Regions from separate parts of the Homo sapiens genome. Here region 2 is linked to region 1. The links come from fine-mapping of genetic effects on gene expression. Tissue or cell type: whole blood. Region 1 holds a variant in brackets; the other region holds the start of a gene. All regions are shown on one strand. Distances are from middle to middle.

Region 1 (8,324 bases):
CTGAGGGATCTTCCTGAGCAAAGAAAGAAGGCAGCTTCCTTGGGGCCTTGGACATCTGAGGCCTTTCATGGAGCCTTCTCCTTCCAGGAGTGGCTTCCTGAGGAGTTCCTGGAGAGAATCTCTCAGCTGGACACCCGGTCGCCTGTCACCAAGATCAATGGTAAGAGGCACACCACATTGCAGCACTGTCTCCTTTGACCCATCTGAGTGAGAAACCTCCAGGCTGGGGGCAGCTGAACTCAGTCATCATCTCCATTCCCGGACCTCCAGCCTGTGTCCCCCTGCAGCCTGGTCAGAAGGTGAAACACTTGCTCATACTTTCCTACTCCCGTCCGCCACTGAGGGTAGCAGGGTGCTGGCTGTAGAGGGAGGACCTTGTGGGGCTAAGACCTGACCCTCCTCTTTGGTCCCTCAGTGGCCGTAGACAGGCTGCCCAGCTTCCTGGCGGCCCCCAATGCTCCCAGGGGCCAGCCGCTGCCCCATCACCAATGCTCCATCCACCTGAACTGTGAAGACACCCTCCTCCTTCATCAGGCCTTTGAAGATGCCATGGATGGCCTGCCTTCCCACAGGTAGGGGCCCTGGACTTTATGTTCCCTGATGTTCTTCCACATGGGCCTGGGAGGCGGGGCTGTCCATGCCACCCACAGCAGGGATCAGGCCTGGTGTTCAACCTTCACAGTGACTTAGGATCTGCCAAAATCCATACTCCTAAGGACAGGAAGTGCATCCCAGGTGAAAAATCTGAGGATGAGGGCAGGTAAGGGGTGAAGAGCGGCTCAGGTTAGCAGAAGGGGCAGAGGGGCAGAGCACTGCCCAGGAAAGTGCTGGGGCTGGGGAAGAAGAGGAGAAAATGTGTTCTGGGAGAGCAAAGGAAGTTCTCTCATTCAGAGCCCGTCAGAGAGCACGCACTCACCGAGTCCCCTGCTCCGTAGCCTTTCTTTTTCTGATAATCTGCCTTCTTGCAAAACTTCTAAAAGCATTTCCCACCTCCCACTGCAGCTGTATTTCCATTCTTCTGGAACAGGCAGGGGCGCTATAGGAGCAAGTGCCTTTCCATCCTGTCCGCTGTCCAGCACACACTGTTGAAAACCTACTCAGTGCTGGACTCTGTACTGGGTATGGGCTGGGAGAATTAGCGGGGCAGGGGCATGAAACTGACACAAAGCTTATGATAGGACAGGTACACAAATATTTATAGCATGTGGTAAAGAAGATGTGCGCCTGGAAAGAAGGGTATAGGGCAAAGTTCATTCATCCATTTATAAATATTCTGGGGTCTCTATTCTGTGCCAGGCTTGGTTCAGTGAGTGGGCACAGATCAGCAAGCAAAGCCAAGAAAGTCTCAGGTCGTTGACTCTCTATCCATGAGAGGAAGACAATCAACAAGTAAGCACTGATGATGAGCACTGTGGAGAAAAATAGGCAGGGAAGGGGAGGAAAGGCTTCTCTAATAACGTGGCACTTGAGCGGAGACCGGAAGGAAGTGAGAATACAGATCTTATGGGTATCTGGGGAAAAAACGTCCAGACAGAGGGAAGGTCAGGTGCAAAGGCCCTGGGGCAGGAGTGTGCTGCTGTATAGGAGGCACAGGGACGAGGCCAGAGTGGCTGGAGAGAGAGCACCTGGGAATGAAGGGTCTCGGATGGTGCTGGGTCTTGTCAAGTGCCCTGGCTCTTACTCCAGGAAAGTTTGTGCAGAGCCTGCCTTATGCTTTAAAAAGACCAACCTGGACACTGTATGCAGAAAAAGTTAAGGCATCTGTTGCAATGGGTTACTGTTGCAGAATCCAAGGGAGAGAGGACAGTGGCTTGGACAAGGGTGGGGGCAGGGGAAGTGATGAGAAGTGTTGGAAGACTGGGTATGTTTTGAAGGTGAAGCCAACAGGACTTTCTGTTGGATAGGGAGTGGGATGTGGGTCAAAAAAAGGAGCGACTGTGAAATGATGCCTCCATTTACTGAAAAGAGGAAGAGGCGGTGGGGGTGGAGCAGATTTTAGAGGCTAATCAGGCATTGGGGTTTGAACAGGGGATGTTTGAGATCCCTGGTGGACATCCGAGTTCAGCGAGAACATTGCAGCTGAGGGACGCAGGGAGAAGGGGCATTTCCCGTGGCCTTGAAGGAGACTCATATTTGGAGATCAGAGGGAGAACATGCTCCAGGTAGAAAAGGTGTGGCAGGCAAAGGTGGTGGGGTGGGAAGCAGGTCACAGCTCTGCTGGGGCTCGGGGCAGCCCTAGCAGCTCTGTCTTCCATTGGTCTGCTCTGGAAAAGACAGTCAGGCCACTAAAGCCTGGCTGAAATCTGGCTGCTTGGGCGCCTGCTGTCTTAGGCCTGGCCCCTTTCCACACTCCCACTGTCTGTGTGGACCTTCGAGACATTTGCGTTTGGGAGCTGTGGTTAGAGCACAGCGTGTGATGAAGGCAGGCAAGGACAGGCCATGCATTCGGGGGTCTGGGGTCAGGCGAGCTCCTCACAGGTGCTCTGGACCACGCTAGCAGCCGCTAAGCCCGTGCAGGTGGACAACCACTGTGGCTGTAGAGCGACAATCGCCCAGAATTGGTGTCATCTCAGGGCCTCCACTGTGTCCCAAGTCATCTCGGATGCCCTACCCTCCGCACTGCTGCTCTTTAGACCTGCCGTCTCCTCCCTGCCCGCACAGGCCTGTGATTGAGCTCTGCATCCCTTCCTCGCTGGACCCCACCCTGGCTCCCCCTGGCTGCCATGTAGTCTCCCTCTTCACTCAGTACATGCCCTATACGCTGGCTGGAGGCAAGGCCTGGGACGAGCAGGAGAGAGACGCTTATGCAGACAGAGGTAAAGACAGCTGCACGTTCTGCCTCCAGAGCCACAGCCGGGCATGCGACCCAACTGGGCCTGCTCCTCCTCACTGCCCCATTCAGGATTGACAACTGCAGGTGCCATTCCAAAGGGAGGAAATAGTCAAGGGAACCTCAAGTCAACATAGTTGACTGCAGGGGTCAGGAACTGGGCTAAGAAAGTCAAGAAGACACAGTTCCTGCCCTCCAGTTGCTCACAGTCTAGCAAGGGATGGAGGAGACTAATTAAGAAACCTTTTATTACAGCACAGCTGACTGCACGAACCAAAGGAGACGCATGAGCCAGAGAGACAAGGAAGGCTTTCAAAGGAAGGGATGGTCAAGCTGGGTTTCCAAGGATGACTAGGAGCTGGCCAGGCAGCAAAGGGCATTCCAAGCAAGAGAAACAGCTTGATCAGGCCAGGCGTGGGGGCTCATGCCTGTAATTCCAGCACTTCGGGAGGCCGAGGCAGGCGGATCACCCGAGGTCAGGAGTTCAAGACCAGCCTGACCAACATGGTGAAACCCCGTAGCTACTAAAAACATAAAAAAATTAGCAGGGTGTGGTGGCACATGCCTGTAATCTTAGCTGCTCAGGAGGCTGAGGCAGGAGAATCGTTTGAACCCAGAGGCGGAGGTTGCAGTGAGCTGAGATTGCGCCACTGCACTCCAGCCTGGGTGACAGAGTGAGACTCCGTCTCAAAAAAAAAAAAAAAAAAAAAAAAAACAGCTTGAGAAAAGTGAAGAGGTGAAAAAAGCTGCATATGCAAAAGGAGATCAGCAGCTTCGTGTTTAAGGTTGGGGTAGGGAAGTGGGGAAAACTGGGGACTGGACTGGCCTACCCATGCATCTTTGGGATGAATTAATCATTTGCTTGTGGACTGATTTTTGTTTTTCACCTATTGAGGTATAATTTGCATATGATAAAATAAGCCCATTTCTGTGTGTAATTTAATGACTGTTAGTAAATTTGCCAAGTTGTACACCCATAGTGCCTCCTCTTCTTCCTAACACCATCTCATTTCTCTGTTTTTGGCACCCCAGTGTTTGATTGCATCGAGGTCTATGCCCCTGGCTTCAAGGACTCTGTGGTTGGCAGAGACATCCTCACACCACCAGATTTGGAGAGAATCTTCGGGCTTCCTGGAGGGGTATGTATAAGCCTAGGGGGTCTCTCACCATAGCCTTCCCTCTGCACCCTCACTTCCTGGCTATGACCTCTCTGCTTTATCTTGTCCCTCCATACTCAGCTTTCATCAGGAAGGGAGGACAGTGGCAGGGACCCCGGCTGAGAGAGGGCAGAGAAGCGGTCAAACCGAGGGAATGGGGGATCCCTAGTGGGGGCTCAGAAACACAGGCAGGACAGCCCCCACTGAGAAGGTCACCAGGATTGTGGCCCTCTGCCTTGACAACTATGCTGGCTCTGCCATCTGACTTTCTTGAGAGAGAGCACCCCCTTCTCAAGGCAGCAGCACATCCTCAGACTTGTCAATTTATCAAAAACTAGAGATTGGAGACAGGGAGACCAGATAGGAGGCCAGGTTCAATCGCCTCATTGCAGCTACTGAGCACTTGAAAGATCAGAGACCACCCTAGGCAACGTAGTGAGACCCCATCTCTACAAAAACAAAAACCCCGCCAGGTGTGGTGGTGCGTACCTGTGGTTCCAGCTACCCAGGAAGCTGAAACAGGATGATCGCTTGAGCCCAGGAGTTTGAGACTGCAGTGAGCTGTGATGCGTCATTACACTTCAGCCTGGGCAACAGAATGAGACCCTATCTCTAGAAAGAAAATTTAAAAAAAAAGCAAAAGAAAGATCTGAGGCCAAAGTGAGATGTGCTGCAAGTGTAGAATGCACACAGTATAGAAAAAAATGTAAAATATCTCATCAATAAGTTATATATTGATTACATGTTGAAATTATAATATTTTGGATATATTGGGCTAAATAAAATATATTATTGACATTAGTTTCATCAGCTTGCCCTTCCTTCCTTCCTTCCTTCCTTCCTTCCTTCCTTCCT[C/TCCTTCCTTCC]CCTCCCTTCCTTGTTTCCTCCCTCCCTCCCTCCCTCTCTTCCTTCTAGAGATAGGTCCTGTTCTATCACCCAGGCTGGAGTGCAGTAGTGCAATCACGGCTCACTGCAGCCTCGACCTCTGGGGCTGAAGCCATCCATCCTCCCACCTCAGCCTCCTGAGTAGCTGGGCCTACAGGCATGCACCACCACACCTGGCTAATTTTTTTTTTTTTTTGTAGAGATGAGTCTCCCTGTGTTGTCTAGGCTGGTCTCAAACTCTGGGGCTCAAGTGATCCTCCCACCTTGGCCTCCCAAAGTGCTGGGATTGCAGGCATGGGCCACCACAACCGGCTCTGCTTTTACTTTTTAAATGTAGCTACTAATAAATCAAAAACTACATATGTAGCTCCCATTACATGTTCACTGAACAGCACTGGTCCAGGTATAGAGGAAAGAAGGCCAGGCAGCGGGAAGGAAGGGAATGGCTGGGTACAGCAGGCATGGGGCGGGCAGACTTGAGAAGCCTTGGTGACAGTGTGCACATAGGAGTCAGGGTGGAGGTGATGTGAAGGGTAGGCACAGAGGCCAGGGGGAGGAAGGTGGTGTCATTCACTTATGCAGGAGGATGGGGAGGAGCAGACTCGAGGGAAGAGGATGGCCTCAGTTTGGGGAAAGGTGAAGAGGGCAGTGGGGGAGCACTCCTGTGAGGATGCCCAACAGACGTCAGGCTTCTTGTCCAGACCTGCCCCCTGAGTCTGACCTTCGCTTGTCCCATGCTGCCTCCCTTCTCAGCCTGGGGCTGGTCTCACCCAAGCCAGGGGGGCAGAACCGTGCTCGGGCTCCGTTGCCCCTTGTCTGCCATTCACAGTGATCCTGCTGGAGCTTGGACACCGGGGTCCGGGCTCAGGTGGATGCCTTGGCCAGAGAAGGGAGTTCTCGCAGAGACGCATGCCAACAGCCACAATAAGTCAGACAATTCTGTTTTTCCAACAGAGGGAGAGGGATGCAGAGTAGAGAGCAAAACCCTCTTTTCCTTCCCGTTCAGTTCGTGTTCCCCACCCTGCTTTCTTCCTCAAAAAGCCTCTGGAAAACTTCACTCCCAGCCCCAGGGCATGTGCCCATTCCGTCTCATCTCCTTCCCTTTCTGCATTTTAAAACCCAAGAAAATATCCTGGAAGGAGAAGAACATTTGCTGAAGAACAGGGGAGGGGAAGAAACCCAGCCAGAGCAGGAAAGGCTGTAACTCTCCTGTGCTGATGACTGTGGCCCTGCCTCTGCAGAACATATTCCACTGCGCCATGTCCCTGGACCAGCTCTACTTCGCCCGCCCCGTGCCCCTGCATTCTGGCTACCGCTGCCCTCTCCAGGGCCTGTATCTCTGTGGAAGTGGGGCTCATCCTGGTGAGTGACCTGGAGTCCCACTACCCTGTGGGGACTGGGAGGGCTCACTGGAGGCCAGAGACTTGGAGAAGGAGGAAGTTAAGCAATGAAGGTGGCAGAGAGGGAGGGGAGCAGGGAACTCCCAACATAAGCTGCCCTGTGTTCAGAATTATCCATGCACAGGTGAGCACACAGCCGCTGCCTCCACCAGGCTGACCACAGCCCACAGTTGAGCTCACACCTCCCCTTCAGGAGGCCTGGGGATGCATCCTGGTGGAGGCATCTCACCACATTCCAATGTGGGGTTGTGAGAGACCCATGTCCCTAAATTCCCCATCCGTATATATATTTAGACAGGGCTTCACGCTATCGCCTAGGCTGGAGGTGCAGTGGTATGATCACAGCTCACTGCAGCCTCAACCTCCTGGGCTCAAGTGATCCTCCTGCCTCGGCCTCTGGAGTAGGTGGGACTACAGGTGTGTGCCACCATGCCTGGCTAATTTTTTATTCTTTTGTGGAGATGGGTTTTGTTAGGTTGCCCGGGCTGGTCTCGAACTCCCGCGCTGAAGTGATCCTCTCCACTCAGCTTCCCAAAGTGCTGGGATTAGAGGCCTCCATCCATATTTTAGACCAGGAAGGATGGATAAAGTTAACTTCTTCAACTTTACAATTCTTTCTTGTGCGCATTCCAAGCCTAACGGAGCTGGCTGAGGCTATTTGCTATGCACACTTTCTCTCAGCTGTGTAGACTTGGTACCCTGGAAAGAGTCTGGGCTTACACATCTTCCCCCTCCCCCCAGCCCCTTATTCTGAAATTTTAACTTCACTTACTAAGCGTGTGCCCATCCAGCACGTCCACCCTCAGCCGTTGAGACTGTGGGCTGTGGACCTGGCCCCTCCCCAGACCTTTGGTGCAGGAAGCCTGGAGGGAGCCAGAATCTATTGAGCGGCTGTCTTAGGTGATTCCAGTGCCCATGCCCCCGGACCCCTCTAACCAGCCCCACTCTGCTTTGTTGCTGGATCTCTGTAAGCCCTGTCCCCACCCCCACCCTGGCAGGTTTTTGAGCGGAGCTTTGGTTCATAGGAGATTCCCTTCCAGGAGGAGGTGTGATGGGAGCTGCTGGGCGAAATGCAGCACATGTGGCCTTTAGGGACCTCAAGAGCATGTGACCCTGAACCAGCTCTGACCCAGGAAGAAGACTCCACCCCTGAATTCCAAGTGCTCCATTGGATCAGCTTCCCAGGAAGTTCAGCTTCGGGTTAGTACATAAGGCCACCACAATGCTCAAGAAATTATTTTAGAAAAAACGTACGAGTTACATTTAGTGCAAGTTGACCTTATGCCCATGCCTCCATACATGGACTGGTTCTGTTTTATTAAAACTAATATTTCATACAGATTATTTTGCTTGTATTTTTTCTCTGTGTTAGTTGGTGGGATAGACTTCTCTGGGGTACTCATAATTCTTACATCAGCTAAGAAGCAGTCCATTTAAAGGCCAGGCATGGTGACTCATGCCTGTAATCCCAGGACTTCGGGAAGTTCAGGCAGGCAAATCACTTTGAGGTCAGGAATTCAAGACCAGCCTGGCCAACATGGTGAAACCTCATCTCTACTAAAAGTACAAAAATTAGACAGGCATGGTGGCGGGCGCCTGTAATCCCAGCTGCTTGGGAGGCTGAGGCAAGAGAATCACTTGAACCCAGGAGGTAGAGGTTGCAGTGAGCCGAGATTGTGCCACTGCACTCCAGCCTGGGCGACAGAGACTCCATCTCAAAACAAAACAAAACAAAAAACAGTCCATCTAACCAGTGGAAGAGTCTGATCCAAGCATCCCCTGTCCTTGCCTGGGACCCCCACTACCAACAATTGGAGGACTGCCCAGGTGGGGCCCAGTCAACCGCTGTCACATTCCTGGCAAGCTATAAGAATGGACCCAATTTCCCCATGATCCACAGAGTCACCCTCAAAGGCCACGGTCCTGAACAATGCTGGGCATCTCAAGCCACAGAATCCTCCAGTCAGGCAAAAAGCAGCCAAGGGTGACTGCAAAGTGGATTCCACTGAGGCCGTCTGGGAGCCCGGTCTTCCTGATTCCAGAGCATTCAGGCTTCTGCCTCC
Region 2 (8,324 bases), 29 kb before region 1:
TAGGTGAGGCTGAGTCCCTGGGCCAGGACGGGCCACACACACTTCCCGCTCTGTAACTCTTGGATTCCTTTCTTCTGAATTGTTGTCTGTCTGTCTCATCTTCTCTTCTTGTTGCTGGTAAGCCCAGCAGGTTGGGAGCCAGAGTTCAGAGGTCACATTTTCACATGGGCGTTTAACTGCTTTGTGATCCCTCTGCCCAGCTGTCTGGCAAACTCTTGCCATTGTCCACGTGGCATCCAGGCACACATGTGAGCAGAAAGGCACATGCCCCACTGTGAGAAATGCGACTCAGACCACACACTTTGTCGCTAGTGCTTCCATGTCGCCAGCGTCACATGCCAAGTGTGGCACATGGTCATCCCTGTGGCATAGGCCCCTGAACTCAAGAGCATAGGCCCCTGCTTGAAGCAGTGAGCCAGGCTGCCTGAGGAGACACTGGTGGTGTGGCTCGGGGCCCTGGCCTCCAGGCCCTGCACTGCTTCTTCTGGGCCTCACTGTTACTGCAGAGTAGGGTCCAGTGGGGGGAGCTTACTATCATTGTGTCTCCATCCATACAACGGGGTCAGGGATCCCTGCCCCAGCCACTGCACAGGGCTGTGAGGGGTGCAGTGGCTGGGACTCCTCTCCTCCTGTCTCTCCCTCCTCTCTGTCTTTTCCCTTTCTTCGCTTTCCTCCTGTTTCTCTTTTATTTGCATCTCGCTTGTCACCATAAGTGGTTGTTCCAGCTCTCAGGAGTGGTTGTTCCAGCTCTCAGGAGTGTTCCTCCTCCCTCGCAGCCCTTGGTCTCTGGGTCCCTGCACTCCTGTGCCTTCCCCTGCCCCCACCCTGCACTCTTTGTTCACTGAGGGTGACAGCCATCCCTTTCCATAGGGCAGGGCGGTTACTGGGGCTCTCCACCACTGTTCTCTCAGTTACCCCCTCACAGCCCTGTAAAGTGGCTGGGGCAGGGATTCCTGACCCCGTTGTACGGATGGAGACACAATGATCCGGAGATCAGACGCCATGGCCAGGGCCACCGAGGCTGTAAGTGAGGAAGCCGGAGCCCAAGCTCTGCTCCCCCGGCCTGCAGGCTCCCAGCTTTCCTCCGTGCCCTCAGAAGTGCCCAGGACGTGTGTACAACAGAAGTGCTAGAAAATTCCTGTGACCTTTACCTTCACTTCTAGGGAGGGACAGGAGTCTGTGTGCTTGGGTGGCCCCGTGGGGTGATAAAGTGAGGCAGAGCTGTGGGCTGGAGAGGCCAGGTTTGAATGCCAGCCACACAGCCCAGCCGGTGCCGTGGGGGCAGCCCTGCACACTAGGGAGTCCACTCCCCCTGCAGGGCAGGCCACGGTGCCCAGGCAAGCATCAGCTAAGTGCCATGTTCATGCCTGGCACACACGGCACGTCCAGCAGATCTTAATTCCCTTCCCCACCTTATCCCACCCTGGGAATTCCCAATTCTTTCAGAGCAGAGGCTTGGGCCTTTTGTGAATGCTCTGCTCTTCAAGACCTGTATGACAGCCCTGCAGGGTGCCCTCCTGAGCGTGTGTTTGTGGCCTGTACAGGTCCAGGTATTGACGGTAATGAGAGCTACCCTGCCGGCCCTTGAAGCTTTGTATACTTTTTCTCTAATGTTCATAAGGTGACTGTTGTCATTCTGACTTCAAAGATGAAAAAACAAGGTCCAGGCATTTTCCCAAGCACCCAGCGCACATGACAGAGCCAAGCCAGGCCGCAAGCCCGGTGCGTCTGACTCAGGCCCTTGCACTACCCCCACACCCACTGCCTCCCTGTCCTCCCTCCTCAGGGGTACAAACTCCAGATGATCGAGGTGCCCGTCCTCTCCGACGACTCAGTGCCTATCGGCATGCTGGGAGGAGACTACTACAGGTGACGCTGCGTTGGGAGCCACTGGGGACAGATGCCCCCATTTGGGTGATAAGTGCTCGCCTCTGCCGGGAGCAGCTTCTGCTTCAGCAGTGCCCTACCTCAGACCCAGAAATCCACGCTGGGAACACCTTCCCGGCTGGCCCTGTGTGCAGCGAGGGAGGACGGGTGTGGAGGGTACATCTGTGTTCCTACCACCTTCCTGCTGGCATGGTCTTGGCAGCACGGGGAACGTCTGTGCCCGGCCCAGAACATCCCCACTGCTACCTCGTAGCCAGGATGCCACTGTTAGGTCAGTGAGGAACCGGAGCGGTTGTCAAGGCCCACATGCAGGGGCCTAGTGAGATGACCGAGGGCATGGGCATTTGCTTGCGAGGGCCCAGAGAGGCCTCTGGCGCTGGAGGAGTGCCACAGCCTCACTCCTGAATCCCATCCTCCCCTTCCTCCCCAGGAAGCTCCTGCGCTACTACAGCAAGAACCGCCCAACCGAGGCTGTCAGGTGCTACGAGCTGCTGGCCCTGCACCTGTCTGTCATCCCCACTGACCTGCTGGTGCAGCAGGCCGGCCAGCTGGCCCGGCGCCTCTGGGAGGCCTCCCGTATCCCCCTGCTCTAGGCCAAGGTGGCCGCAGTCTGCCTTTGCATCCTGTCCTCCAGCCACCCTTGCTTGCCACTGTTCCCCATGACGAGAGCCTCCTGTCTGCAGTGGCCATCCTGAGGATAGGGCAGAGTGCCCAGGGTGGCCCCAGGGCTTCTAAAACCCCACCTAGACCACCCTCCATGTCAGGTACTGAGCAAGGCCCCAGATCCTTCTCTCTGGAGGAAGAGGGAAGCCCAGGGGTCCTGTTTGTAAAACAACGGTGGCAACAGCTCCTCTTCCAGAGCTGCCTCTGCCTTTATCCTGGGAGATGGGGAGGAAGCCCCATCTCTGCTGTTCCCTGCGTGGAGGAAGCCCACCCAGCAAGCTCTCTCCTACCCCAGGTAAAAGGTGCTCCTTTGCCTGGGTTTGAATTCCAGCGCTGCCACTTCCTCTCTGCACCTCCTGGCAAGTTTCTTCTATTCCCCACGTTTAAAGCGATGGCACCTCCGTCCCAGGGTGGTGTGAGGATTACCCAGTGTGGTAGGTGCTCAATAAATGTTGGTCATTGTTATCACTGAAGCCCAACATGCTAGTGCTTCTAGACCCTTCTGTCAGTGCTGATAAGCCCTTGCTAAGTCCCAGCCCCTTCATGCTTGGCTGGCGTCTGCCCTAGGGCTGGGGTTCTCAAGCCCCTGGCCCTGGCCCAGAGATTTGGATTCCCTTGGCGGCCGTGGAGCCCAGCCTTTGATGTCTTTCAAAGCTTCTGTGGTGCGCCCTGGATTGAGAACCACCACCCGAGGGGTACAGCCCCTCTCTTCCAACCGAGAAGTTCCTGTCCCAGAATGGACCCAGGGACAAGAGACCCTGAGAGCCCTGGGACTGGGAGTGTCTGCTCCTCTGAGGCCAGGAGGCCGGTGCTGGGCCAGAGAGGACGGCGTGGCGAAAGTCAGCGTCCACTGCAGCACAGGATCAGATGGCCGTGTGCTGTGCATGCAGGAGCCTCGCCTTCTGTGTCTTTAGTCTTGAGCCAAAATTTGCTCAAAGACTGATCTCTTCCTTGCAGGGAACAGCTTTGGGGCTGGGGGAACTAGAACCCACATGTTGGTCTAAACCCTGAGAAGGTGGCAGTGAGGAAGTATCCCCTCAGGTGACTGGATCTGTGTTCCTCCTTAACATCATCTGATGGAATGGCAATGAAAAGCGTGGATTGTGGAAAATACAGAAAAACATAAAGGAAAAAACTCCAATCCCCTGAGCCCACCACTGTTCAGGACCCCTGCTTTTGTCACCTACTATTTCCCTTTAGTTTTTAGCAGCGGCTGGATGTGATATGTCTAGTTTAACCAGTCCCCTTGATCTTTCTATATAATAAATAACACAGGAGTGAACATCCTGAATCAGATCTTAGCAGAGATGCTCACATGCGGGGTAACTGTCCATGGTGTGTGGAGGGGTCCTCGGAACCCCCTCTTAGGATCATCTCCACATACTCTCCCAGTTCTGAGATTCGTTACCAATAGCAGGTTTCCGTCACACTGCGATATCAGAGCAGTGCAGGAACTCTCCGCTCCAAGGGGTTTTTTCCTCCTAGGGGAACACTCTGCTAAGTAATGGGCAGAGAACAAAGGGGCTCCTAATTCAAGGCAGGCCTAAGGGAGGGTCAGAAAGAACTTTAGCTGGAGGTATTTACAGATGTGACCTCGAATCCTTGGGGATTCTTGGAAAATGGGCAAGGTGCCAAAAGAGGAGAACTGGCCAGGCCTTCAAAACTAAAACACCAGAGAATTACAGACAGCGAACTTGCCCCTAAGCCCTCGTTGTGGGTTTGTGTTTGAGCATTTAGGAGAGGACTCCAGTGCTCCTCAGCGACAGACACAGCTGCCTCTGCGGTGTCTGAAGGCCCTGGTCGTGGTGACGCTAGATGGCCGCCCTGGGCGCCTCCTGTGGGCGTAGAGGCATCACCACTCTGCACTGGCAGACTCAGCATGGAGTTGGAGCAGAGTCTGACACGAGCACTTGCCATCCCAGGCGTTTCAGTTCTGACTGAGAAGGTAGATGCACAGGGGAGGAGAGGGCCCTTTCGAGCTCCACTCTGCCTCCACCACTCATTCCCTAACCCCGCAGCCTCAGCGCCCTCATCTGTAAAATGGGGAGTTTTGCCTACAGGGTTCAGCACAATGCCAGCCTGACATAGGAACCCCAGTGGATTGTCAGTTTTGCCATTATCCCCTGCATCCTGGAGGTGACACCGCCTGGTTAATAGGCAACACTCCCGACGGCCCAGCACAGCCCCAGGGCAGCAGGAGGCTGGCCTGTGGCCAAGAATGCATGGTGGAGGGGGCCTGGAGGGGGACTGCAGCTCCTCCTCTTCCTGCTTCCTCCCTGCTCCACCCCGTGCCTAGGGCAGCACAAAAGCCAATCGCTAGCAAACTCCCTGCCTAGCAAGGCCCAGCCTGGGGCAGAAATGGCTGCAAGTGGCCGAGGTCTCTGCAAGGCTGTGGCCGCCTCTCCCTTCCCGGCGTGGAGACGAGATAACACGGAAGCCAGGGGAGGTCTGAAGCCTGAGTATGATGCGGTGGTGATAGGAGCAGGTAAAGTGGTAAAGCAGGCCGGGCCAGAGCTGAGGGGCGGGAAGACAGCCCTGCTCAGAGCTTGGTGGGGAGGGGGAGGGGGAGCCAAGCCCCACTGCTCTCTCCTCTGGCATAACCCAGCCAGAAGTTTATACGCTAGCAGGGGCTGCAATGGAAAGCCCTTCCATCTGGCAGGCAGGCACCTGGGATTCCGGTGCTGGCTCTGCTGTGTGGCCTGGGGCAAATGCTTGCCTTCTCTGGGCTTGGATCTTCCCATGGAGAATGACAGGAAGACTAGGTGAGCTCAGGGGTTTCCCTATATCTCTTGCAAAGTGACCTAGTTTCCACCACATTCTCAGCCTATGGTTTGTAAGGGTTGGAAAGAGCCCTGGGCCAACAGACAAGTGAAATCCAGCACCCCGCCCCCTCAGTGCCCTGAGTTCTGGTCACCACTACCTTACCACTGAGGCCACCCCTCGTCACAAGAAACTGCAGTCATTTCATAAAGGCCAGTTAGGATAAAACAGAACTGAGTCCCAGAGTTCCTACTGCGTGTCTGCAGAGGGAGATGGACCCCATTGCCTTGCAGCTCTGGGACATTTGGGGATCTGCAGTGATCTGCCACACTTTGCCAACCCCTGGGCTCAGAGTATCACAGTCTACTGGGTGCTAGGGGAAGAGGCAGGCCCAGGACCAGGTGGTCTTTCCTTAGTGCCTTCCTTTCACACTTGCAGAGGGCCCCAAATGCATGATTGCCAACTGGGTCTATACAGAGATAATGACGGGACCGAAAGCAGACGGCACTCAACATGCAGCTTTGAGGGCATGCCTTCATTTTCATATGTACTAGAGCAGTTGCGAGCTGGTAGATACTCAACACTCACCTCTCCAGGGAAAAATGTGTGATGTATGTGTGTGTGTACATGTATATATATGTATATATACACACATATATGTGTATATATATGTATATGTGTTACGTACATATATATACACATATACACATGCTTATTTTAAATATTGAAATAAAAGATACACTGCACACAATTTTACAAATAAAGATACAATACTCTCAATTTAAATGCAGTCTACCCGAGTGATTCTTACCAAAGGCTTTCTTTGATTTTTGCCAAACTCAGTAGCCAACCTATAGTTGCAAATGACAAATGAGGGTAGCTCCAAAGAGAACGGTGCTCCATATTTTCTGTAAAGAGTAGGATGATCGTGAAACAAATGAAACAACAAAGATTTATGTCCCAACCTTACTCCTTTATTTTTTAAAATTTATTTTTATTTTATTTATTTATTCATTTATTGAGATGGAGTCTTGCTCTGTTGCCCAGGCTGGAGTGCAGCGGCGCAATCTCGGCTCACTGCAACCTCCGCCTCCTGGGTTCAAGCGATTCTCTTGCCTCAGCCTCCCGAGTAGCTGGGACTACAGGCGCCCACCACCACGCCCGGCTAATTTTTGTATTTTTAGTAGAGACGGGGTTTCACCATGTTGGCGAGGCTGATCTCAAACTCCTGGCCTTGTGATCCACCTGCCTCAGCCTCCCAAAGGGCTGGGATTACAGGTGTGAGCCACTGCGCCCGGCCTCCTTCTTTAAATGACAGGAATGATGTTACTCAAATAAGATAATATTGTTCTAATACTAGAATATTTCCTTCAATTTTTGTGCTATTTATTCATGCTATAACAGCTAACACTGTTAGGTTTAATCTGCATTATTAGCATTTTCCCATCACTTTCTTAAGCCTGACCACAAAAAATAAATTCAGCCCTTCTGTGTAATATTTGCTGATGACAGTGGTGTAAATACTCCCACCATAGCCTTTTCTGTTACCAAGATGAGGTTGCTCAATGTGATTTAGGAGAGATACCCAGTAGCACATCATTGTATAGTGTGTCCACCATGCAGATATGTACATAGAGGCCAGTGACTGCCAGGGCATGGGCAACAGTCAAATGTAGTAAAACAAATAGGAGGTAGTGTGTTTTGAGTATTTATTACCTTTGTTTTTAATTTATTTAATTGTAAGCTTATATAATTTAGTTTATATCAATGGCTGTTTGACAGCCGGCTCACAAACTCCCCGGGCTGGTGGGAGCCATCTCCAGCACCTCACTTAGCCTCAGAGAAGCCCCCTGCCTCCTTCCGTGCTCAGCCACAGCTCACCCTGCTGTCTCCTAATGGGGAAGGTTGACTTTAGGTCACCAGCTGCCTTGGTGACTTGCCTACAAGTGCGAGTGAGTCTCAGTGTGTGAGCTTTTCCTTGACATGATTTCTTTAGTTGCTAAACATACCATAAAGCCTGGTTTAAAGGCATCTTGGGCCTCAGTGAGGAACAGAACGGCATCTTCTGAGACAAGGGTTACCTCTGAGTCCCTGAAGGCACACTGGCACCTGGCCGCCACCTTGAAGATGAATCTCATTTAGTCATTTGACTAAATGTGCCTGAGAGTGACTGAGGGGGCTTGTTAAAATGGAGATTCCTGGCCCCATACCTGGTGACGAGCATTCTGAGGGCGGGAGGTGTCTCCCAGAGGTCAGCACATCCACCCAACCAACACTGCCTGATGCAGGCAGCTGCAGAGCCCACGCCCAGAGCAGCTCCTCAAGGGCCCAGGCGCCTGCTATGGGGCCCCTGAGGCAGGTCTGGGGATTAGCAGAGCCCGCAGCTGAAGTCCTCTTCAAGGGAACAGAGGTGTCACCAGAAGCCAAGGAGGGCTCAGCCAGGACTTGAGGGTGGTCACTGGGAGGGGGTCTTGTGCTTTGGATCCTTGACCTTACTCATTTGAGGTCTGCCATGATTGAACTGGACCCAGTTGCCTGGAAGACTATGAGTTTTCCAAGATCGATCATCAGCACCAATTAAAAGACAAATAGCTCCCATTTATCTCATCCTTGCCACACTGCAGGGTCCCTGGCACCCTCTGTTCCCCATGTGAAGAAACTCAAGGCTCAGGGCAGCTGATGACTCTCTGAGGTCATGCCCTGGCAAATAGCAGAGGCTGGGCTGAGCCCAGGACTGTCTGCCTTTAGTTTGCTGCATGTCTTTGAGAGACAGATTCCATCTGTTCATGAGTCCCACTGGCGGATTGTTTAAACTTTCTTATGAACATTTTCAAAAGCCCATACAAATAAAGAGTATGTCAACCAGCACTTTTTAAGATGAACTGTAACCAACTAGCTTCTCACATGCTTCTCATATGGTAAGAGTTAATTTTAGCTCATGAAACTTTTGGTTCTGTGAAACACCTGCTGAACAGACTCCTGGGAAGGGGGTCTGTGGGAGTCGACATTTATAC

The links. PIP is the estimated chance that this variant, and not a neighbour inherited with it, causes the effect.
Region 2: it holds the start of PYROXD2, and the variant in region 1 is fine-mapped to the expression of PYROXD2 in whole blood (INTERVAL, PIP above 0.99).

The regions. Positions count from the first base shown.
Region 1 is chr10:98,382,846-98,391,169 of GRCh38, reverse strand. It overlaps PYROXD2 (pyridine nucleotide-disulphide oxidoreductase domain 2), which reads left to right. Exons shown (of 16, transcript NM_032709.3): 11 at 88-160; 12 at 416-572; 13 at 2,662-2,816; 14 at 3,863-3,969; 15 at 6,103-6,223; 16 at 7,302-7,602. The coding sequence ends at 7,372. Among named protein-coding and RNA genes, the nearest start is that of MIR1287, 8.3 kb to the left of the region's middle. The variant C/TCCTTCCTTCC (reference allele first, on the strand shown) is at 4,843.
Region 2 is chr10:98,411,720-98,420,043 of GRCh38, reverse strand. PYROXD2 (pyridine nucleotide-disulphide oxidoreductase domain 2) reads left to right here and starts at 4,862. Exons shown (of 16, transcript NM_032709.3): 1 at 4,862-5,035. The coding sequence starts at 4,909. HPS1 (HPS1 biogenesis of lysosomal organelles complex 3 subunit 1) reads left to right here. Exons shown (of 20, transcript NM_000195.5): 19 at 1,787-1,869; 20 at 2,318-3,846. The coding sequence ends at 2,480.